3 separate regions of the Homo sapiens genome follow, and all the other regions are linked to region 2. Evidence: fine-mapped expression QTL. A gene starts in region 2. Each other region holds a variant in brackets. All regions are shown on one strand. Distances are from middle to middle.

Region 1 (8,171 bases), 31 kb before region 2:
CCCCCAGGCTGGAGTGCAGTGGTGCGATCTCGGCTCACTGCAACCTCCACCTCAGGTTCAAGCGATTCTGCTGCCTCAGCCTCCTCAGTAGCTGGGATTACAGGCACCTGCCACCACACCCGGCTAATTTTTTGTATTTTTAGTAGAGACGGAGTTTCACTATGTTGGCCAGGCTGGTCTCGATCTCCTGACCTCAGGTGATCCACCCACCTCGGCCTCCCAAAGTGCTGGGATCACAGGCGTGAGCCACCGCACCCGGCCCATTATTTGCTCTTGATTCTTTTAAAGGTGCACTGAAGATTTACAAATATCAGGAAATGAACATTTTATTTTTTCCTTAGGTTTAAAGACTGTATAAAGCATTTTAATAAACATGATTTGTTTGTTTGTTTTTTTGAGACAGAGTCTTACTCCTTCACCCAGGCTGGAGTGCAGTGGCGCAATCTCGGCTCATTGCAATCTCCACCTCCCTGGTTCAAGCGATTCTCCCGCCTCAGCCTCCCAAGTAGCTGGGATTACAGGTGCGCCACCATGCCCAGCTAATTTTTGTATTTTTAGTTAGAGACGGGATTTCACCATGTAGGCTAGACCTCTGCCTCCGAAGCTCAAGCGATCCTCCCACCTCAGCCTCCCGAGGAGCCGGGACTACAGGTGTGCACCACCACGCCCGGCTAATTTTTGTATGTTTTTGTAGAGATGGGGTTTCGCGGTGTGGCCCAGGCTGGTCTCAAAGTCCTGAGCTCAAACCGTCCACCCGCCTTAGCCTCCCAAAGTGCTGGGATTAGGTGTGAACCACCACACCTCACCTCCTTCAAGGTTTCTGACTGGTCCTGGAGCTTGGCCTGTCCCGGCACTCCCCACCCCCCACCTTCAGCACCTGGCCCCTTCCCTCACGGCCGTTCTTTCCCACTCGCCGTGGTTTGCGGGGTCACAGTTGTTGAGGAAGTTGCAGACACCTGGGAGCTGCTCTTGATAGCAGGGAGTTTGGCGTGTGATACCCATTCCTCACCCAGGAGGGAGGGGCGTGCAGGTGCAGAGACAGAGAGATGGACCCGACCCGTCAGGTCCCGCCGGCCCCCTCCCCAGCAGGCTTCTACAGCACAGCCTCTGTGAGGGTGGAAATGCTTCTGTCTGAGCTGCTGTCCTCACAGTGGCCACGGGCTGGGGAGGTGCTGGCCACCTGGGGTCACTGTGTTCCAGCAGTTGAGAGAGGCAGAGCATTGGCTGTCAGAAAGGACCATTCTGGGTGGGGCAGGAGGGGCCCCAGGACCAGCCCTCATTGGCAGGGCTGGCAGGAAACCCCCCACCCCTGGTGAAGGAGCCCCAGCATCCGGTGGGCACAGTGGGCACAGTCCGGTGGAGGACGTGAGGGCGCGGCCGGTGGAGGACGTGTGGGCGCGGCCGGTGGAGGACGTGAGGGCGCGGCCGGTGGAGGACGTGTGGGCGCGGCCGGTGGAGGACGTGTGGGCGCGGCCGGTGGAGGACGTGTGGGCGCGGCCGGTGGAGGACGTGAGGGCGCGGCCGGTGGAGGACGTGAGGGCGCGGCCGGTGGAGGACGTGAGGGCGCGGCCGGTGGAGGACGTGTGGGCGCGGCCGGTGGAGGACGTGAGGGCGCGGCCGGTGGAGGACGTGTGGGCGCGGCCGGTGGAGGACGTGAGGGCGCGGCCGGTGGAGGACGTGTGGGCGCGGCCGGTGGAGGACGTGAGGGCGCGGCCGGTGGAGGACGTGAGGGCGCGGCCGGTGGAGGACGTGTGGGCGCGGCCGGTGGAGGACGTGTGGGCGCGGCCGGTGGAGGACGTGAGGGCGCGGCCGGTGGAGGACGTGAGGGCGCGGCCGGTGGAGGACGTGAGGGCGCGGCCGGTGGAGGATGTGTGGGCGCGGTGCTGGTACTTTTACAATGCTTCGTGAACCTGCTGTCCGTAGCTCTGTTTCACAGATGGGGAAACTGAGGCCTGGCGATTAAGTGGCCTGCTGAAATCATCCAGCTAGTAAGTGTCGGAGCTGTGATTTGGACCAACTCCTGCCTCCAAAGCTCATTCACCTCCTTACCTTTGCACTGAGCTCCAGAAAACCTGAGGCTTCCCCGTCTCCCTCGCTGTGCCTTCTCTCCCCTGCTCAAAGACCGTCCTGCAGCCATCATGGAGGGAGAAGCCCTTTTTCCTAAGCTGTTCACAGGATAGTCTGGGAGGGCCTGGGAGGCAGCGGAGGAGTCCCGAGCCTTCCGGGCTCCAGGCCTGGGTTCCAGTGCCCTGGGGAGAGGCCTAGGGCTGCCAAGGGGCCCTCGGGTCCCAGCTGTGCGTCTGCCAGGAGAGGACTGTGGAGTCAGTGTTGGGGACGCTCCCTGAGCCCCAGGGGGGTGCAGGCAGGTTGCCGTCCACTCCGATCCTTCTGAGGCTCTGTGGCCCAGGCCTGCTGCTCTGACCCCTGTTTTCAGAGCAGCGATGCCACAGTCTGCCTGGGCGCGAACATGACATCTGGCCCAGATCCGGAACATTCAGGGCCAGTCTGGTCCTGAGATGTGGAAGCTGCCAGGGGAGGGCTGGGCCTTGGGGCCCACAGGGACCCCTGCTCAGCTGGTTTCCAGCCTGTGGAATGTGGGTCCCAGGGTGTCAGATCTTGATTTTTCCAGAGAAGCTGGAAGTCCGGTTTTTTGGTGAAATCTCCTAATTTTATTTATTGTTTTAAATTTTACCTTGAAAATAGTTCACACAGAAACGTTGCAAGGAGAGTATCATGAAGCCCTGTGTACCCTTTGCCACTCAGCATTTTGGGACGTATTTGTGCTGCATTTGCTTCATCAGTTCTGTGTTCTACATTCGCATACTGTTATTTTTACTCTTTTTATTATTTGGATCATTTGAGAGTAAGTTGCAGGCTGGGTGCGGTGGCTCACACCTGTGATCCCAGCACTTTGGGAGGCTGAGGTGGGCGGATCGCTTGAGGTCAGGAGTTCGAAACCAGCCTGGCCAACGTGGTGAAACCCCGACTCTACTAAAAACACAAAAATTAGCCAGACATGGTGGCGGGTGCCTGTAATCCCAGCTACTCGGGAGGCTGAGGCAGGGGAATCACTGGAACCCTGAAGGCAGGGGTTGCAGTGAGCCAAGATCGCTCCATTGCACTCTAGCCTGGGTGAAAGAGCGAGACTCCACCTTAAAAAAAAAAAAAACAGTAAGTTGCAGACACCAGGACCCCACGCCTTAAATGCTTCACTGG[G/T]TGTCTCCTAAGAACAAGCAGGAAAATCATCACAGGCACAGCGCTCACCCTGCACGCAGCACCCTGAGCTGAGCTGACCCCCACCCAAATTCAAACTCTGTCCCAGTTCTTTTTTTTTGGAGACAGGGTCTTGCTCTGTTGCCCAGGCTGGAGTGCAGTCATGAGATCACAGCTCACTGCATCCCCAACCTGCTGGGCTCAAGTGATCCTCCCGCCTTAGCCTCCCGAGTAGCTGAGCCACTGCACCTGGCTAAGTTGAAAAATGTTTTTTTTTGGGCCGGGTGCAGTGGCTCACGCCTGTAATCCCAGCACTTTGGGAGGCTGAGGCGGGCGGATCACAAGGTCAGGAGTTCGAGACCAGCCTGGCCAACACATTTGAAACCCCGTCTCTACTAAAAATACAAAAATTAGCCGGGCATGGTGGCAGGCGCCTGTAATCCTAGCTACTGGGGAGGCTGAGGCAGGAGAATGGCGTGAACCTGGGAGGCAGAGGTTGCAGTGAGCTGAGATCACACCATTGCACTGCAGCCTGGGAGGCAGAACTAGACTCCCTTTAAAAAAACAAAATTTATTTATTTTTTCTTGTACAGATGGGGTCTCATTATGTTGCCCAAACTCCTGGGCTCAAGCAGTTCCCCTGCCTCAGTCTCCCAAAGTGCTGCGATTACAGGTGTGAGCCACTGTGCCTGGTCCAAATCCCTGAGGAGCCCAGGCAGGTGGTTTACAAGGTCTTGGGTCTGCCTGTTTCCCGTGATTACACACAGCCTCCTTACTTTTGCTGGGAAGGCCGTGAACAGGAGCTGTGTCCTCGCTGCTCCCCTCCCCGACTTTTTCCAAGGTGGGCAGCTCCTTTAAATCACCTCAGGAACCTGGGAGGCCAGGCGGGCCCAACCTGCGTCCCAGCATTCAGCTGCCTTATTAAGCACAGAGTCTGAGCTCAATAAAATCAGGACCACAGGCATGCACCACCACACCCAGCTAATTTTGAAATTTTTTGTAGAGATGGGGTCTTGCTGTATTGCCCCGGCTGGTCTTGAACTCCTGGCCTGAAGTGATCCTCCCGCCTCGGCCTCCCAAAATGTTGGGACTACAGGTGTAAGCCACCATGCCCAGCCTGTATTACTTTTTAAATCTGAATTTGGTTTGTATAATTACATGAAATACTAATATGGCTCCCAAGTCGTGGGATATTACAGAAGTCTTGCCGCCTTCCTGGGTCCCGTCTCCTGTGCACAGAGCCCCTTCCTTTCACCTGTGGGTGACTATCTTAATATTTTCTGTGTCGATTTGCCTATGTGTGGTTTAAATAAGCAAATACGCACATGGAGTCACGGCCCCTCCTGCCTGTGTTAGATAGATGTTTGCACACGAGACACACTTTTCTCCACTTGGTGTTTTTCATTTGACATCATGTCCTGGAGATCACGTCTTTGCTGTTTATAGCGATATCTGGGGGAGGATTTTGACAGCGTGAAGGGTTTGTTTCTGAGCGTATTCCAGAGTCGGAGCAGTGGTGGGAGCAGAGAATGAATTCACACGCATGGCGTCGGCACGACATGACTCCATCTAGCTGATCTCACTACGACCCGCGCGCCTGGCTTCCCTCTGCCCGTGATTTAGAGGAGAAAGTGGAGGCTTGCCGGAGCCGGCCGGGACCTGGTGTCTGCTTCCCGGACAGGCACTGTGTGGCCCCAGGCTCAGGAGGGCTGACGGGTGCCGGCCGTCGGGGGCTCCTTGAGGCTGTGGCTGGGCACACAGCCCCGTAGAGTCCCAGACCTGTTGCGGGTGTGGCCCACGGAATCCTCCTGATGGCTCTGTAGCTTGTATCACGTGTGGCTGGCAGTGCCGGGGGCTCAGGAACATCCGGTAGAGAGTGCAGCCTCCGTGGCATTTCTGTGTGAGGATGAACCGGAGTGAGCTCAGCCTCGCCCTGTGCCCTGCAGAGCAGACACGCAGCAGCATCATGAGGGCCGCAGTGTCCTGAAGGCCTGGATCCATCTGTACCAAGGCAGCCCCACCCAGTGTGCTCGGAACAAGGGAATCCCCACAGAAGAGAATGGCTCCTGGGAGTACCAGTGCCATGACCCGGCAGCGGGGACACTGGTGGTCTTCAGACGCAGTGGCCGTCCTGAGCTGAGCCAGGGGCAGTGGGAAGACCCCCCCGGTGGAGCCTGCGGCTCGGGGGGCTGTGTTGGGGGGCAGTGGATGGGAGAGACAGCAGCAGGAGGATTCGTCTCGAGTCCGGGTCTCTGCGAAGCCGGTGCCGGCTTCGGCGAGGTGGGTGGTCTCCACGCCCCTTGAGGTTGAGAAGATGTGCGCCCTTCTGCAGGGGCCGAGCTGCTGGGCGTCTGGCAGAATTTCACAGTGTTTAAAAGGAATGATTTTTAATGAGGCAACAGAGACACAGGGTTCACACAGACAAGGCAGAGAGAGATAACAGACCTTGGCCAGCACCTGCTCCCCCCAGGCTCTGTTGCGTGTGCGCAGGAGGGTCACACGGAGACGCTGGCTCACACGTGAGCTCGGTCTTCCTGGGGGCTACACACAGCTGTGCCAGTTGCCTTTTTCTCTTTACGGTTTCTCTTGGAGATTTTTCTAGATCGGGACACAAGGTGCTCTCCTCCCGCTGCTTTTTTTTTTGAGACAGGGTCTTGCTGTGTCGCTCAGGCTGGAGGGCAGTGGTGCCATCACAGCTCTATGCAGCCTCAATCTCCTGGGCTCAAGCAATCCTCCCACCTCAGCCTCCCGAGTAGCTGGGACTACAGGTGCATGGCATCATGCCTGGCTAATTTCCAATTTTTTTTTTTTTAGAGATGGGGGTCTCTCTATGTTGGCCAGGCTGGTCTGGAACTCCTGGGCTCAAGCGAACCTCTCCTCGGACTCCCAAAGTGCGGGGATGACAGGCATGAGGCACCGCGTCTGGCATCCGCCTTCTTTTGGAGTCTCACAGGATCCCCAGTGTGCTCGGAGGACAGTGGGCTGGGTTTGCGTGGTGGGCCTGCACACCGTGCCCCGGCTTTTCCACGCAGCACCTTTGTGGGGCCGTGTTTTCTCCCCCTCGGGCTGTGTGTGCTGGGCTGTGAGACTGGCTTCTGTCTGGGTGCTGGCTGACCCTGGAACTGGCCTGGCCAAGGTGACCGGCTTCTGCCTGTTTTCCTTCCTGAGTCATCCCAGGTTAGGTGCTGAGTGGCTTTGGGCCGGCGACCACCCCTGTCTGGGCCTGAGGGTGCCGTATCTGTAAGGTCTATGGCATGACATGGCGAGAGGTGGGCCGCTGTCCACACCTGGCCACTGTCAACTTCCATCTTGCTGTTTGAACAACTGCTCTTGAAAACCAGTTTGAATCAAGCTGGCACGGCGGCTCACGCCTGTCATCCCAACACTTTGGGAGTTCAAGGTGGGCGGATCACTTGAGGTCAGGAGTTTGAGACCAGCTTGGCCAACATGGTGAAACCTTGTCTCTACTAAAAATACAAAAATTACCCGGGATTGGTGAGGGTGCCTGTAATCCCAGTTACTCGGGAGGCTGAGGCAGGAAAATCGCTTGAACCAGGAGGTGGAGGTTGCAGTGAGCCAAGATTGTGCCACTGCACTCCAGCCTGGGTGACAGAGCAAGACTCTGTCTTTAAAAAAAAAAAAAAAAAAATCCGAATCAGCTGCAAGCCCTCTGTTGAAACCAGGCGATGGTCAGGGAGCTTCTGAGTTTCCATCTTATCTGAAAGCTGGAAGGTCACACGTGTGGGCCCTGCTCCACCTGGGTGATGGTGCTCCCTGGAGATGGTGGGGGGGGTGTGCTCCCCATCCCTGCACCTGACTGGGCCTGGGGGTGGCTGAGTTTGCAATCCCTGTCTGTCTCCCTGGTCCTGAGGGAGCCTCCAGCTTTGGTGATGCAGTGCCTATGGCACATCCCCTGGGCGTCTTTAACATGAGCCTGGCAGTGAGGCCAGGAGGGAGGCATTTGATCCCCCCGGGGCCAGCCTCACCCGTATGGCCTTTGGAAAGCTATGTCTCTTCACTTAGAACAAAGGTTCAGACCAAATTAAAACAATAATAACAAAATCAAGTGCATCTGAGTTTGTACAGGGAGCCGTGGGACCCCCAGGGCAATGGGATAGGCCACCCCCTGGGTACCCACAGGCCTCAGATGCAGGCTGACCTTGCACCCCCAGCCAGGACCCCAACCGCTGCCCGCTGCCTGCCTGCCACCTGCCAGCACAGGCGCAGTTTGGGCCTGTTTTCCAGCTCCCGGCCGGCCAGTTTTGACAACAGGACCACCTGCCTGGGGGTTTGCCTCTCCGATGGGGCTGGCCGAGCCCTCAGGTACATCTCAGCTGCTCACCTGCTAGGAGCCACGGTCACCTTCGCCTGGCCTGGCCCAGCCCCCTCCACACCTTTCAAGTGCCCTGGTCCTGGAAGGGGGAGGTGGGGGTGTGCCTGGCTCTTCCACTGCGCTCCACTTCCAAGGCCCGGCCTGTGCTTTGAAGCAGCAGCCGTGGAAAGAAAACAAGTATTGCAGCCCACAGAGCCCTGGGAGGCCGTGGTCCCGCTCCTGCAGCGTTTTCCAGCCCTGGGGTGGTGGCGCCCTGGGAGGCCGTGGCCCCGCTCCTGCAGCGTTTTCCAGCCCTGGGGTGGTGGCGCCCTGGGAGGCCGTGGCCCCGCTCCTGCAGCGTTTTCCAGCCCTGGGGTGGTGGCGCCCTGGGAGGCCGTGGCCCTGCTCCTGCAGCGTTTTCCAGCCCTGGGGTGGTGGCGCCCTGGGAGGCCGTGGCCCCGCTCCTGCAGCGTTTTCCAGCCCTGGGGTGGTGACGCCCTCGGAGGCCGTGGCCCCGCTCCTGCAGCGTTTTCCAGCCCTGGGGTGGTGGCGCCCTCGGAGGCCGTGGCCCCGCTCCTGCAGCGTTTTCCAGCCTTGGGGTGGTGGCGCCCTCGGAGGCCGTGGCCCCGCTCCTGCAGCGTTTTCC
Region 2 (8,171 bases):
TACAAAAAAATTAGCTGGGCGTGGTGGCAGGTGCCTGTAATCCCAGGTACTCCAGAGGCTGAGGCAGGAGAATCGCTTGAACCTGGGAGGTGGAGGTTGCAGTGAGCCGAGAGCCTGACTCCGTCTCAAAAAAAACAAAAAACAAACAAAAAGAAAAACACCTCTCATTGTTTAGAGAAAGTTCACTAATGAAACTTAAGAACAGGCTCTTTAACAAGTTATCTCAATGTTTGTATAATCTTGTCATTAAAAAGAATTGGTAGCACCCAGGATGTTGCTTCGAGGGTCTCTGCAACAGTGTTGCGAAAGTCGTTTGCAAGAGAAACTGTAACTTGTATGTCTGGATGTACTTTGTATCTGTTGACTTTCTTCTTTTGTTACAGGGAATGAAGGAGACAACTTCTATGTCGTTGATCAAGGGGAAGTGGATGTGAGTGTCGCTAACTTGTCTTTGGAAAATAGCGCGTCTTTGCATGTCCGGTGTGAAGACTTGCCCTCCAGGCAGCACCAGGCCCCCAACAAACACTGCGCTGAGTGCCGTATTCCTAGTGTTTTAATCCAGAAATGCAACTGCTATCTCTTGGAAGAGAATATGGGAATATGAGAAAGTGCAGAGGGAAACAAGGGTGATGCTGGCAGGTGCCGGCAGCGGCCTCAGGTTTTCCAGGGCCGCTGTCTTCCGCTTGCCCCCGGGCTGCGACTGCTGGGGCTGGCCAGGGCGGTTCTGTTTGACCCAGCGCCGTCTCCAGATCCGAGGCCGATGAATACACCAGGCTCACCCACCACATGGGATGTTAACATCTCAAAGTGGGTGGGAGAGCGACGTGCTTAGAGACCCCCTAGGACCGACGACTTCACGATCAAACAACGGCTGCCTTTTGCGCCTGCGTTTGGCTCCCAGCTTGGAACGTCCCAGCCGTGAGTCGGGTCTCACTGTGTCATCTTCCCACGCTTGTCTCAAGAGCATCTTTTATGAGATGCTCCCACTGTTTTGGAAGGAGAAGCTTCCCCTCCGCTGGAGACCCCGTCTCGTGCCCGATGGCCAGGCCATGTGTATGTGTATGTATAAAATAGATACATATATGTATAAAACTAAGTAAATAAACACATACACACGGCACATGACATCACCCCTGGCCCCGCAGCCCAGTCTTGCCCAGAGCCTCTGGCTCCCATCTCTTCTGCCGTCCGGTTTAGAGCCTGGGTGCTCTGGTGTGAAGGCTTTGAGGCCCCCTCATCCCCCGCTGGGCTCCTGTTCTGCAGGCCGCCCCCCGCACGGCAGCCTGACCTTGCTGGTGCGGAGCTGATGGTGCAGCCTCTGGGAAAACGCCCGCTAGGAGTTTGTTTCCCTTTGAATCAGGCCCGAGCCCCTGCGGAGTCAGCGGGAAGGACCTCAGTGACATCATCCTCCCTCGGTTCCTGGAATCCGCCTGCACTGGCGGCCCCAGGGCCTTGGTGTGTGTCCCCTGCTCTGCCGGGAACCCCGTTAGCTCCTGCTTCTCCTTCTGCTCTCTGCTAAATGTCACTTCCCAGTGGGCATCAGCAGACATGTCCCACGCCTCCCTCGTAGGACCCTCTGCGGCTCGTGGTGATGACATCTCATGAGACCGTCTCTTTACGGCCTTTCTGCACACAGACTGGAAGCCCCCACAGTGCAGGACGCTTTGGGGATTCTGCTACCCGAGACGGTCACTGCTTCCCAGGCTGGCTGAGTCTTCTCTGGGTCTGGGATGCCTGCCTGCCCTTCTCCTTGTCCGCCTGCCCTTCTCCTTGTCCACCTGCCCCAGGAGGTGGCCTCCGCACTCTTCCGTGCAGGCAACGCCACCCCCGGCTGCCCAGCACGAGCTATTTCGAGGTCTGGCCTCCGGTGGCTGTGCCTCTGTCCCGGCCACGCTATTCTGGGGAGGGCATTTACTCATTTGTTTCCGTGGCAGCCGCGGAGTCTGTCCCCCATCGCGCTGTGTTTCTGGGAACCTGAGCAGGCCCACTCTGCTTCCGGAGCTGATAGCACAGGAAATGACTCAGGGGTCCCGCCTCCCCGTGGGGGGCACGTGCCTCGGGCCTGGCCCGCGCAGGCGGAGAAAGAGCCAGTTTCTCTTCTCCCTGGTGTGCTCTGTCCTGAGCCGGAACCCACGGGCTGGGCCCCTAGACAGGGCCTCTGGGGCAGACCTTTGTGTCAGGGAGTGGGGGTGCTCCTGTCTCCCCTAGAGATGGAAACTGAGGCAGGTGCCAAAGGTCCCGGGTACTGCCCGGCCTCAGAGGAAGTGTGGAGGGGGAAGGCTGGAGGGCGGCACTGGCGGGTCAACCCTGGGCTCAGCTGCCAGGCCGCAGAGTCATCTCCTGCTGGCTTTGCTTCGAGTTTAAAAAAAGCCTAGCCCAGGAAATAGAGAAGACAGAGGAGGATGCGGCCAGCATCCCAGCCGGGCATCGTCTTGGGGCCTGGGCCCGTCCCAGGAGGTGGCCCCGTTGTGCCTGGTATCCAGACACCAGGGCCTGATGGGGGGCTGCAGGGAATGGGGCTCAGCCCCCAGCAGATGGGGCAGGGCTGATCCCAGAGAGACCCTGGCAGCCCAGGCCTGCCCAGTGGTCAGCAGTGCTGAAGGCAGAGCCACCTCTGCGGGAGGTATGGGATGGGCAGCTTCCTGACTGGACCCACCGCTTTATCCCAGCCCCAAATCTCATGCTACTACTTATAGCCCCTCTTCTAGTTCACACTCTGGGTCCTGGTGTCACCGTGTCACCTCCTCCCCCGCCCTGTCCATTCTGGGTCCTGGTGTCACCATGTCACCTCCTCCCCCGCCCTCTCCACTCTGGGTCCTGGTGTCACCTCCTCCCCCATCCCCTCCACTCTGGGTCCTGGTGTCACCTCCTCCCCCACCCTCTCCACTCTGGATCCTGGTGTCACCTCCTCCCCCATCCCCTCCACTCTGGGTCCTGGTGTCACCGTGTCACCTCCTCCCCTGCCCTCTCCACTCTGGGTCCTGGTGTCACCTCCTCCCCCATCACCTCCACTCTGGGTCCTGGAGTCATCATGTCGCCTCCTCCCCTGCCGTCTCCTTCCTGGATGTTTATTGAGTGCCTGCTTTATGCCTGGCACTTGTGACGAGGAGGACCTGGTGCCTGCTCTGGTGTGGGGGAGGTTGTGGCTTAATGGGGGAGAGGGACCAAGAACAGGAAATTAGCCAATGAATGTCCTGACTCTGGTTCTGCCCCTCCTGTCCCCTCTGCTTTCATTCCTGCTCTGCCTCACAAACTCCTACACATCCTACAAGACCCCGCCAGGCCCAGCTCATCTATCTGCGGCTGGGCTTTGATAGATACTGACCTCCGCAGATGACCGAGGACCTGCCTCCCTGCGGTGGGCCTGGGAGCTCCATAGGTCCCCACTGAGGCCTTTCCTCCCCTGTGGAATGCTTCTCCCTCTTCTGTGTCTGCCCATGTCATTCAAATCTTCCAGTTAAATTCCAAAGGCATCTTCAAGGTGCCGGTTTGCATCGGCAGGGCTTGGGGTTGAGGCCACCCCCAGGAATTCTGCTTTCCATGTTCTTTGCTTCTCCTAAATGAACAGATGTGGAAGAGACAAACCCTTTACCCAGAGATCCCTTGTGGAGCCTGAAACCGACATGGGGCTCCCAGGTTATGTTCCCGCCTAACTTGTCGTGTCTCGAGGAGGGTGGTGGACGGGTCAGGATCGCGTGGACTCGGGACTCAGAGGACCCAGGCTGTGTTCTTTGCTGGCCGTGACCTTTGCCCAGGCCCTTGTGTGGCTGAGCCGTGCCATTTCCATATTACTCAGAAAAACGAACAGAGCTCACTGCTGCCGGGAAGACTGAGATAACCCTCCTGGGGTTCTGCTCTTGGCCCCTGGTGTGGAAGCCATTGGCCGCCTGGCAGCTGCCCCGCCCCGTCTCATGTCCCCAACACACGCACCGCAAGAGCCTCGTCCACCCCACAGAGGAAACGCCCACCACCCACGCCCCGGGCTTGTCCTCATCTTCAGCGCGGGTGGCCACCCTCCTGCCCCAGCGCCAGGCCCCAGCCGGCAGCATGCTGAGGACTTCCTGGGAGAGGTGAGGGTGTGAGGGGCCGGCGGCTGGGACTGCTGGAGGGATCAGGTCCCTGTCTTTCCGCCGTTGGCCTCCAGGCTCCCGGGAGCCCCACCTGGGCCAGGACCTCGGCAAAGGGGCCGGGAGGTGTTGCTGCCCCGGCTGACCTTGGCGGGACCTCCTCCTCCTCCTCCTCATCCTCGCAGAATCCCCACCCACCCCTCGACCTCTGGACTCAGTGAGGCATCTCCCTTCCCTCCGTCCTTCCAGCAGGACAGACCCCCCCTCCCCCCGCCGCCGTCTGTAACTCCTTCATACATGACAGGGTGGTGGGAGAGGCCGGTGCCGGAGCCACTTCAAAGCAGGGACCGTTTCCTCCAGCCCTGAGCTCACTGGGTCCCCTCCCAGCCCAGCCCCTGCCCTGGCCCAGTTAGCGTGGGGTCGGGGCTGAAGCCTGAGTGGAGGGGAGACGGTTTTCTCTCAGACACGACGCGTCGTGGCGTCCTGCCTGGCTTCTCGCCAGGCCCGGGGACGTTGGGAGGCAATTTTGAGAAAGGAAAGAGTGAGGTCACCCTCGTGTAACTGGAGTTCCCCAAATATATTGTCCTGGCAAATCCCTCCCCTTCCCCCTCCCCATCCCCCTGCCCGTCCCTGCGCCTCCCCCTGCCCGTCCCTACCCCTCCCCAGCCCCCCCGGGTCAGGCACAAAGGCAGCTTTAAGGCCTCTGCTGGACCCGGCCCTCCAGAGCCAGGATGTCTGAGCCCCGTGGGTGGATGCCCACTTCCTGGCTACAGGCTCACGTGGGATGGCCGGGCCCCCTGCGGGAACCGGCTGTGACTTATGGGGCTGTCCCGTGAGTCCCAGGCGGCTGTGCACGAACACCAAGCACCTCCATCAACTTCAGATTTTCCAGCCAGGGCAGGGGTGGGCGTCAGGGAGTGCCCGGCGGGGCCGGGCGGGGCCGGGCGCAGGAGCTGCCTGCAGGGGCCCTCCTGTGATGTGGGAGGCCCTTCGCATGCAGGGTAAATCCGCAGGGCCCGTGTGGGTGAAGGCCACATTTAAGGGAATCAAAGGATGCTCAGTAAGGAATCTGGAATGAAAAAGTGGCATGTTGGGTAGCCCGGGTGAGTTATGGGCATATGTATTATAATAATTACTGTTATTACAGCACCCGGGGGAACGGCCGCATGGCAGCCCCAGGCAGCCCCATCCAGCTGCTGTGTGAACCCTGGGTGCTGCATGTTGTTTGCTGGTTTCTGTAAATCGCCTCCCTGGGGCAATGGGATGGATGTACCCTGGGTTCGGGGCTGCAGGACTACGGCTACCCAGGGTCCGAGTGGGTTTCTGAGGCTAGCGGTTTTCCCTGGTTTTATTCTGCGTGGCGGGAAGGGACGGCCGTTTGCCGTGGGTATTTAACTGCGCTGGCCAAGTGCCGGAGGCCCATCAGGAAGCCGTCCCCTCAAGGACCTGGCCCTGGCCCTTTAAGCCAGCAGAGCTTGGAGGTGGACGTCACCCACTTCTGCAGGGTGGACGCTGCCCTCTGACCAGCAGCGTCCAGGGGGACGGCCAGGTGACAAAATGCCAAGAGCACCAGGTTCAGTTTGAATTACGGTTTTCCAGAGACTCCGAAAGTGCCTGCTGCCGTCCGTGTGTTGCCAAGAGCTATAATCCATTTTTCTAAGTATAAAAATATCTTCCAATGTATTTTATTCATGGAACATAGCATTTCTATTTAAAAGGACACTCAGCTGCTGACTTTGCAGGCCTGGGAACGTAGCTCCCTTCCAAGCCCTGTTTGGGGCTCGACTCTTCCCCTGATTGTTTTTGGGCCCGTTATCCCGACTCCCTCTTTTTGCTCCCCGTCCCAGGCATCACGACGTCCCCACTGACGCTGGCCGTTCCGGGCTTCCCTCGGTTTCACACAACACGTCTGGGGGAAGAGCTCTTTCTGGGGGGCTGGGGAGCACCGCCAGGCAGCTGGGTGTACCCCGGAGCAGGGCGCCTCAGCTTGGTGATCTGATCAGATGTTATTCAGGTTGTGTCTTGTGTTCTGTGTGTTTTTAAAATTCGTTTTTTAATTTTTTGAGATGGGGTCTCGCTCTGTCGCCCAGGCTGGGAGTGCGGTGGCGTGATCATAGCTCATTGCAGCCTTGAACTCCTGGGCTCAAGCGATCCTCCCGAGAAGCTGGGACTACCACTGTGCACCACCACGTCCAGCTAATTTTAAAGTTTTTCATAGAGACGGGGTCTTGCTGTGTTGCCCAGGCTGGTCTCAGACTCCTGGCTTCAAGCAATCCTCCCGCCTGGGCTTCCCAAAGTGCTGTGATGACAGGTATGAGCCACTGCCCTCGGCCCTACTTTAATTGTAGTAAAAGACACACCACACTGACCATTCTAACCATTTTGTGCAGTTCGGTGGCATTAAGAATATTCACGTTGTTTTACAACCGTCACCACTGTCCATTTCCCAAATGTTCTTGTCTTCTTAAACTGAAGCTCTGTCCACATTACACACTCCCTGCCCATGCGCCTCCCCCAGCTCCTGGCACCCCTGTCCCACCATTGACTTCTAAACACAGAGGGTGAGCGAGTGAAGGTGAATGGGGGGCCTGCCCGTGCGCCTCCCCCAGCTCTTGGCACCCCTGTCCCACCATTGACTTCTAAACACAGAGGGTGAGCGAGTGAAGGTGAATGGGGGGCCTGCCCGTGTGCCTCCCCCAGCTCCTGGCACCCCTGTCCCACCATTGACTTCTAAACACAGAGGGTGAGCGAGTGAAGGTGAATGGGGGGCCTGCCCATGTGCCTCCCCCAGCTCCTGGCACCTCTGTCCCACCATTGACTTCTAAACACAGAGGGTGAGCGAGTGAAGGTGGGCAGGGGGCAGGGCAGAGCCAGGTGTGAGCTCGGCGCCAGAGAAGCTGCAGTGATGGTGGGGTGTAAATGCTGCCCCGCGGGGGACCCCCATTGTTTTTTCTTTTAAAAGAAGAGAAGCTGGGCGTGGTGGCTCACGCCTGTAATCCCAGCACTTTGGGAGGCCGAGGTGGGTGGATCACCTGAGGTCAGGAGTTTGAGACCAGCCTGACCAACATGGAGAAACCCCGTCTCTACTAAAAATACAAAATTAGCCGGGCGTGGTGGCAGTTGCCTGTAATCCGGGAGGCTGAGGCGGGAGAATCGCTTGAACCTGGGAGGCAGAGGTTGCGGTGAGCCGAGATCGCACCATTGCACTCCAGCCTGAGGAACAAGAGCGAAACTCCATCTCAAAAAAAAAAAAGAGAGAAAACAAAAAAATGAAACACAACAAGAAGTAGCCCCTTTGCGTACCAGCTGGGGTGGGGCCCGCACTGCGCCGGGAGTGGTGACAGTGGCCAGTGTCCTGAGAAGGATGGCCCCTTTGTCCTCCGGGCGGCCGAGCACAGTGTGGCCCTGGCCGTCTGTGGGACCCGCACAATGGCTTCCTCTGAGGCTGCGGAGGGAGCTCTCGGAGGCCTTGGGCTTCTCCAGGCCTCATGGGCAGCGCGTCCTGGTCCAGCTTCCCTGGGTCCTGCCTGCAGCGGCAGCAGCCACGGATCCCCGCTTTGAGACAGAATCCCAGAAAGCTGGGAGGTGCGGCCGTCCCGGGCTGGCTCTGTGGAGACTCACCCTTCTCTGCTCCCAGAGCCCCCATCCTCTTTGCCAAGGCAGGGGGATGTCCTGCCACTTGCCTGGGCAGCCATTCGAGGGGGTGGTGTCCTCATTCCCTGAAGGGGCCAAGAGGCTCACTCACCTCCTTGGGCACAAGATGTTACCCGCCTCCCTGGCTCTCCCATGTCAAGCAAACCCCTCCCGACCTCAGATTCACATCTTCTGAGTCCACACTGCTTTCGTGGCTCAGCAAGAGGCCCCTGCATCGGAACAGAAGTGCAGAGGGTGCTGGAGGGAGGGTGATAGTGTTTAGTGCGGAGGGTGCTGGAGGGAGGGTGATGATGTTTAGTGTGGAGGGTGATGGTGTTTGGTGCGGAGGGTGCTGGAGGGTGATGGTATCTAGTGTGGAGGGTGCTGGAGGGTGATGGTGTTTAGTGTGGAGGGTGCTGGAGGGTGATGGTGTTTAGTGTGGAGGGTGCTGGAGGGAGGGTGATGGTATTT
Region 3 (8,171 bases), 47 kb before region 2:
TCATGAAGGGATGATGATGGTGATGATGGTGATGGAGATGAAGATAGTGGTGGTGATGGTGAAGGTGATGGTGATGATGGTAGTGATGGTGATGAAGGTGATGATGGTGATGTTGGTGATGATGGTGATAGTGATGATGATAATTATCATGGTAATAAGGGTGATGAGCACTAGTTATAACACCACATTAAGTGTATATAACCCATTTGGCCTCTTGTTGTGCTTTCCTAGAAATCATCTGCAATGGATGTTGGAGTTGATTCTCCATTATTCCCACCCCTCCCCAGCTATGTAGCACCATGTGGTTTGGGAGGGGATTGAATCTACCATGAGCTTTTGGAGTAGCCCTTATTTTAGCCCATTCTGGATGAGTCCATCCATCAACGACTGTGACTGGATCAGGTAACCCAAGACTAAGCCAACCAGCTCAGGACAGTTCCTGAGGCCCCTGTCCAGTGGCCAGGTGGCCTTGCTTAGCAGTGGTCCCATGAGAAGCAAAGAGAGTTTACTAAAGGCTTCTGGGAAAGGGACCTTGCTCCCTGGGGATAACTACACTTCTGGAAGCCAGCCCTCACTTTCCTTCTGAACGATGAGGTGGGTGAATGGGAAGCTTGGGAGGCAGTGTTGGGAAGAGGCTGCTGCTGCAAAGTACAGAAATGGACAGAACCTGGGTCTTTGAAGGCCTCGTTGAATTCCTGAATTCAACCCACCCCAAGGTTCCCTATGGTGTACTTGACATTGGTGGCCCCCAAAGAGCCTCAGACACTGGCCTGGCTCCCCACTTGTGTAGTTCCTTCTGCGTTGGCTCTGGGCCTGGCTGTGTGGCTGGGTTTGGCCAATGGTACATTAGCAAGTGTGATGCCAGGAGAGGCTGGAGAAGCACTTGTCCACTGGGAGCGGGTCCTTCTTGGCGCCCAGCCACCATGCAGTGGGGAAGCCCAAGCAGTCATGTGGAGGGACTCCTGGGGGTGGAGCTGGGACTCCTGGCCAGTGGCATCCCTGAGTGCCAGGCCGGTGGCCACCACCAACCACCCTGTGTGGAAATCAGCCATCCCAGCCAACACCATGGGAGGGAGGAGGCCTGCCCCATCAACCCACAGAACCATGAGGAAGAGTGAATTTTTTTGTCAAGGCACTCTGTTTGAGGTGGTTTGTTATGTAACAATAAATAACCAAAATACCCGAGTACCAGTTATTGGAGCCAAGAAATCCTTATTGAATGGGTTGGGAATTGTCTCTGGCTCCAAATCTCTATCCCTTCCAGCGACCCTGGACAGCAAGCTGGGAAAACGAGACACTCCCACATCACAAATGGTGAGCCTGGACTGCCAGTCCCTAGGGCAGAACCTCCAGATTTACAAAATAGTCTCCTGTGTGAGCGTGAACTGTCTTCCAAGAGGGGTTTCCCCAGGTTCCTAGCACTGCGTGGGTATGAACTTTCTTCCGAGAGGGGTTTCCCCAGGTTCCTAGCACTGTGTGGGTGTGAACTGTCTTCCGAGAGGGGTTTCCCCAGGTTCCTAGCGCTGCGTGGGTGTGAACTGTCTTCCGAGAGGGGTTTCCCCAGGTTCCTAGTGCTGCACGGGTGTGAACTGTCTTCCGAGAGGGGTTTCCCCAGGTTCCTAGCTCTGTGTGGGTGTGAACTGTGTTCCGAGAGGGGTTTCCCCAGGTTCCTAGCGCTGCGTGGGTGTGAACTGTCTTCCGAGAGGGGTTTTCCCAGGTTCCTAGCGCTGTGTGGGTGTGAACTGTGTTCCGAGAGGGGTTTCCCCAGGTTCCTAGCGCTGTGCGGGTGTGAACTGTGTTCCGAGAGGGGTTTTCCCAGGTTCCTAGCACTGTGTGGGTGTGAACTGTCTTCCGAGAGGGGTTTCCCCAGGTTCCTAGCGCTGTGTGGGTGTGAACTGTGTTCCGAGAGGGGTTTCCCCAGGTTCCTAGCGTTGTGTGGGTGTGAACTGTGTTCCGAGAGGGGTTTCCCCAGGTTCCTAGCTCCGTGTGGGTGTGAACTGTCTTCCGAGAGGGGTTTCCCCAGGTTCCTAGCGCTGTGTGGGTGTGAACTGTGTTCCGAGAGGGGTTTCCCCAGGTTCCTAGCGTTGTGTGGGTGTGAACTGTCTTCCGAGAGGGGTTTCCCCAGGTTCCTAGCTCCGTGTGGGTGTGAACTGTCTTCCGAGAGGGGTTTCCCCAGGTTCCTAGCGCTGTGTGGGTGTGAACTGTGTTCCGAGAGGGGTTTCCCCAGGTTCCTAGCTCCGTGTGGGTGTGAACTGTCTTCCGAGAGGGGTTTCCCCAGGTTCCTAGCGCTGTGTGGGTGTGAACTGTGTTCCGAGAGGGGTTTCCCCAGGTTCCTAGCGCTGTGTGGGTGTGAACTGTCTTCTGACAGGGGGTTTCCCAGGTTCCTAGCACTGTGTGGGTGTGAACTGTCTTCTGACAGGGGGTTTCCCAGGTTCCTAGCGCTGCACGGGTGTGAACTGTCTTCTGACAGGGGGTTTCCCAGGTTCCTAGTGGGAGTGTTTTGTTGACACGTGAAGTCTGTGTGATAAATAACACAGGGCCCTGGGAGTCAGAGATTGCTAAAGCCTCGTGGAAGAGCTCTGTAAGGCATCATGTGTTTCGGGGTCCTTTCCGAGGAACATGGAACTCGTATGAATTTTCAGGCTGGCTTTGTCAGTCAACATGGATCATGCTTCCTCCATGGCACACGTCCCTATAGGCATGCTACATGCACAGCCTGGTTTGCCCCTTGCAATCACCCCTCATGGCAGGTCCCTGCGGACTTGAGGGCCAGAGGCCCCTAGGAGCCTGGCTGTATGCTGGGTCCTGTCTGGGTGCCTGTAGGAGGCAGAGACAGGGCAGAGTAGATTTGGCACCTGCTCTTGAGCAGCCCCCAAATTCCAGACCTGAAGGAGTTTCAGCACCAAAGCAGGAACCCGGGGAAGCTTCCAGAAGGCAGCAGGGCTTGAATGGCTTGGACTAGCCTCTGTGCCTCTGAGCTTCCTGGTCCAGAGAGGTGATGATGCTTAGGACTGTTTTGCTGCACAGAAGAAGCTGAGTCAGGGCTCTCGGTGGCCGGTGAGCCAGGGGTGCTCCAGGATGAGTCCCGCAGGCATCCGCCAGCACGGGCAGGGAGGGAGGCAGCAGCTTTGCCTCAGACGCCTCTGGGCTCGGTCCCAGCCTGCTGCCTGCTGGCCACGTGACCTTGGCAAATGACGTGACGTCTCTGAGCTGCCTGTGGGCCACGTGACCTTTGCAAATGACATGACCTCTCTGAGCTTCAGGCCTGTTCCCTCTGTCCTTGAAGTTGGCGCAGTCAAAGGCAGAAAAGGGGCTGTCCCCAGGCAGAGCCCCCACCCACCGCCATTGCGCCTCCATTCCACAGGTGCCCCACGCTGTTCGGGTGGCAATGGCGGGACGTGTGCAGGGGCGGGAGGCTGTGCCAGAAGTGCACCAGGCAGGCAGTGGGTGAGGGCACCAGAGCCAGGAATGACTCCCAGAGGAGGGGGTGTTTGCAGCCCAGAGCTGGAGGTTCGGAGGTGCAGCCGGTGTGAAGGCTGGAGGGCTGGAAAGAGCCTTTCGTGGTTGGAACTGATCAGGTGGAGTGAGCAGGGAGGGAGGGAGGGGCTGAGTTGGGGTGGCAGTGGCTCTGGGGGCTGTGGTTTTCCAGCAGGGCACACAGACCCTTGGGATGCAGACCCTCTAGGGTCCCTCAGACAGGGTCCACAGTCCCAGGTCTGCATTCTCAGAACTGCCATTGAGGCCACCTGTCCTCTTCATCAGAGAAGGCACACTCACTCACACACCTGGGTCCTGCCTGCACAGATTGCAGTCACCTCACAACGGCATGGCCAGATGCTTCTTATAAACAAGGCACTACAGGCTGGGCATGATGGCTGATGCCTGTAATCCCAGAGCTCTAGGAGGCTGAGGCAGGAGGATCACTTGAGCATAGGAGTTTGAGACCAGCCTGGGCCGCATAGCAAGACCCTAATCTCTACAAAAAAAAAAAAAAAAAATTAGCTGGGCCTGGTGGCTCATGCAGCTACTCAGGAGGCTGAGGCAGGAGGATCACGTGAACATAGCCTGGGCAGCATAGCAAGACCTCAAGCTCTACAAAAAAACAGAAAATTAGCCAGGTGTGGTGGTGCTTGCCTGTGGTCCCAGCTACTCAGGAAGCTGAGATGGGGGGATCGCTTCAGTCCAGGACTTTGAGAGCAGCCTGGGCAACATAGCAAGACACTAATCTCTGCAAAGAACAAAAAATTAGCCAGGCCTGGTGGCTCATGCAGCTATTCAGGAGGCTGAGATGGGAGGATCGCTTGGGTCTGGGAGTTGGAGGCTGCAGTGACCCAGGGTCGTCACTGCAATCCAGCCTGGACAACAGAGCAAGACCCTGTCTCAAAAAATAAAAATAAATAAATAAATAAATAAATAAGGCGCTACATATAAATCAGTGTAAATATAAAACACACTAAATGAT[G/A]TATTTCGAAAATAGCTTTACTTCTTCAATTGAATAATTACTTACCAAAAATGTTAATGTATAAACGTTTAGTTAACTGTCTGCTAACACTAAAAAGAAATCCTGAAGAAAAATATGATGCTTATAACCTTGTGTTCACAGGGAAAATAATTCCAAACATTCAACGCGTCTTTTACAAGGAAGCATGATAGGGAGATCAAAAAATATTAAGATACGTTTTAAATTAAAACATTTTTACATTGGGATAAATTCTGTGGGAAATGGGCTAGAAATACTCATTCGAGGAGAAAAGGAGCAGTGGAAACATTCTAAATGTTAAAAGCTTTTAAATTTTTATTTATTTATTTATTTTGAGACGGAGTCTCACTCTGTCACCCAGGCTGGAGTGCAGTGGCACGATCTCAGCTCACTGCAACCTCCACCTCCCAGATTCAAATGATGCTCCTGCCTCAGCCTCCCGAGTAGCTGAGATTACAGGTACCCGCCACCATGCCAGGCTAATTTTTGTATTTTTAGCAGAGACCAGGTTTTACCAGGTTGGCTAGGCTGGCCTTGAACCCCTGACCTCAGGCGATCCACCTGCCTCGGCCTCCCAAAGTGCTGGGATTACAGGTGTGAGCCACCGTGCCTGGCCAAATGTTAAAAGTTCTTAAATTTTCTCCGTGATATCTTGTTTTGGTGAGTGTCCAATCCCTATGGGTTTATATTTCATTTATTTATTTATTTATTTTTTCAGATGGAGTCTTACTCTTGTCACCCAGGCTGGAGTGCAATGGTGCAGTCTTAGCTCACTGCAACCTCTGCCTTCTGGGTTCAAGTGACTCTTCTGCCTCAGCTTCCTGAGTAGCTGGGATTACAGGCACTGCCACCACGCCTGGCTAATTTTTTTGTTTGTTTGTTTTTTTGAGACGGAGTCTCACTCTGTTGTCCAGGCTGGAGTGCGGTGGCGTGATCTCGGCTCACTGCAACCTCCGCCTCCTGGGTTCAAGTGATTCTCCCGCCTCAGCCTCCTGACTAGCTGGGATTACGGGCACGCACCACCATGCCCAGCTAATTTTTGTATTTTTGTAGAGATGGAGTTTTGCCATGTTGGCCAGGCTGGTCTCAAACTCCTGACCTCAGGTGATCTGCCTGCCTCAGCCTCCCACAGTGCTGGGATGACAGACGTGAGCCACCATGCCCTGCCTATGGGTTTATATTTCATTGGCTATGTTTAAAAGAGAGAAGGGCAGTTAAAATACCAACTTTCACAATAGGCCAGAAATTACTCCTTTTTGCAACTACCTAAACTTGTAATGAAACATTATAGATGCTAACTTAAAAACAAGTGAAGAGGTACGTAGTTTAAGATTTTTTTTTTTTTAATTTTGGAGGTAGAGTCTCGATATGTGGCCCAGGCTGGAGTTCAGTGGTGTGATCATAGCTCACTGCAGCCTCAACCTCCCAGCCTCAAGCAATCCTCCCACCTCAGCCTCCCAAGTACCTGGGACCACAGGTGCGCACCACCACACCCGGCTAATTTTTAAATTTTTTGTAGAGCTGGGGTCTTGATGTGTTGCTCGAGCTGGTCGCAAACTTCTGGCCTCAAGCAGCGTCTCAAAGCACCGGATTACAGGTGTGAGCCACCATGCCCGGCCATAATGAAGCATTTTAGGTGCTAACTGAAAAACAACATGCGAGGAGGTTTTTTTTTTTTTTTTTTTTTTTTTTGGAGACGAAGTCTCGTTGTTGCCCAGGCTGGAGTGCAGTGGTGCGATCTCGGCTCACTGCAGGCTCTGCCCCCCCAGGTTCATGCCATTCTCCTGCCTCAGCCTCCTGAGTAGCTGGGACTACAGGCGCCTGCCACCTCGCCCGGCTAATTTTTTGTATTTTTAGTAGAGACGGGGTTTCACTGTGTTAGCCAGGATGGTCTCGATCTCCTGACCTTGTGATCCACTTGTCTCGGCCCCCCAAAGTGCTGGGATTACAGGCATGAGCCACCGCGCCTGGCCTGGAGGTACGTGTTTTAAGAAAACTCTTTGGATAGCAAATGGGTGGTTATTCATGGTTATGGGATTAAAGACCGGACGGAGTGGGAGCTGCTGGGGGGTGTTGGGATCATAGAGGGGGCATGGATGGGAGAGGACGAGGAGGCTACGGGGCAGCAGGAGAGGCCAGGAGAGTTGTCCCAGCCACAGGTGATGCTGGCTTGGGTGGGCTGGAGACGGGACAGTGGACAGACTGGGTGATGGCCCTTGGTTAGACCAACGGGTTTTGCTGAGGACCTGACATGGGAGGGTGAGAACGGGAGTGAGGAAGGCTGATCCGCAGGTTGGGGGTTGCTGGTGCCCCCAACCCCGGAGGAGGTGGGCAGGCAGGCTGGTTTTGGCCACAAGAGTTTGGGCGCCCTGTAGGACGTGGGAGAGAGGGGACAGGTGGTCGGCTGTGTGGCTCTGGCCGGCCATGTTGCGTCCCATGCCCCTTTCTTCCCCACCTCTGGGTGGCCCCTTTGGTGTTTCACTTTTGTGGAAGCTGAGCAGCCTGGGCCAGGAGTGGGGGGCAGTGTCACCCCTGCCAGGGCCCCCGGCTCCCTGCCAGGTGTACCGCTGCCGCCCTCAGCCCAGGGCCCTTCGCCTGTGATCCTGCCGGGTGTGAGCTCAGCTAATGGCCTTTTTGGATTTGGACCCTCTTCCTGTTATGATCGGGCGGATGGCCAATTTAAGCATTTAAATCTTGGTTTTAATTTAGTTTGGTTAACATGGCTTAGTCTTAATTACCTGTGCAGTAGCGGCCCCGTCGTAGGATGCTGAGCACTCTGAGCCATTTCATCATCGTGTGATTTCATGCATCTCATTGTGAGTTCAGGGGTTCAGAGGGAGAAGCGTGAAGCCATTTCTAAGTGATGTTTTTATGGGAAACAAGGTTTAATTGTGTGGAAATAGCCATGATTCTGCACGCAGCCCCATTAGGAAACGAGCTCCGCTCTTCTTTCAGTTACTCCAGAGCTGTCATTAGCTCGGGGCCAAGAAGAAGGAGGAACCATTTTCTGTGTCTTCCTGCCCCACCATCGAGCTGCTTGGCACTTGGAATTGCAGAAGCAGAAAAGTTCATGAATTTGGATTTCCCCAGGTTTAGAATTTATGCACCGTCCTTCTAGAATCACTGAAATTGTTCTCTTAAAACGTAGCACTCAGGCCAGGCGCGGTGGCTCACGCCTGTAATCCCAGCACTTTGGGAGACCAAGGCGGGAGGATCGCTTGAATCCAGGAGTTTGAGACCAGCCTGGGGAACATAGGAAGACCCTGTCTCTACAGTAGATTCAAAAATCAGCTGAGCATGGTGGTGCACCTGTGGTCCCAGCTACTTGGGAGGCCGAGGTAGGAGGATTGCTTGAGCCCAGGAGGTTGAGGTTTCAGTGAGCTATGATTGCACCACTGCACTTCAACCTGGGAGGCAGAGCAAGACTCTGCCTCTTAAAAAAAAAAATAGCGTGCAGTTGGGGTTACTGAGCAACATGTTGGTGACGAAGGAGCCGGAATCTCAGCTGTGGGCCTCGTGGGGTCAGGTGCACACTTGGACTTTGCTGTCAGCTCCTGCCCTTTCCGGGTACCCTGGCATCACTGCTCTGAAAACAGGGACCAGATCGGGGCTGGGCCACAGAGCCCCAGAGGGGTCTGACTGGCGAGTGGACGGCAACCTGCCTGTACTCCCTGGGGCTCAGGGAGCACCC

Evidence for each region.
Region 1: its variant is fine-mapped to the expression of PRKAR1B-AS1 in whole blood (TOPMed, PIP 0.98).
Region 3: its variant is fine-mapped to the expression of PRKAR1B-AS1 in whole blood (TOPMed, PIP above 0.99).

The regions. Positions count from the first base shown.
Region 1 is chr7:629,642-637,812 of GRCh38, reverse strand. All of the region lies in intron 4 of PRKAR1B (protein kinase cAMP-dependent type I regulatory subunit beta), which reads left to right. Among named protein-coding and RNA genes, the nearest start is that of PRKAR1B-AS1, 31 kb to the right of the region's middle. The variant G/T (reference allele first, on the strand shown) is at 3,217.
Region 2 is chr7:598,452-606,622 of GRCh38, reverse strand. It overlaps PRKAR1B-AS1 (PRKAR1B antisense RNA 1), which reads right to left and starts at 3,778. Exons shown (of 2, transcript NR_110054.1): 1 at 3,326-3,778. It overlaps PRKAR1B (protein kinase cAMP-dependent type I regulatory subunit beta), which reads left to right. Exons shown (of 11, transcript NM_001164760.2): 6 at 384-430. RefSeq lists enhancers at 1,616-1,975, 2,246-2,355, 2,290-2,975, 3,036-3,085 and silencers at 4,181-4,240, 4,981-5,090.
Region 3 is chr7:645,807-653,977 of GRCh38, reverse strand. All of the region lies in intron 4 of PRKAR1B (protein kinase cAMP-dependent type I regulatory subunit beta), which reads left to right. Among named protein-coding and RNA genes, the nearest start is that of PRKAR1B-AS1, 47 kb to the right of the region's middle. RefSeq lists an enhancer at 1,440-2,639. The variant G/A (reference allele first, on the strand shown) is at 4,463.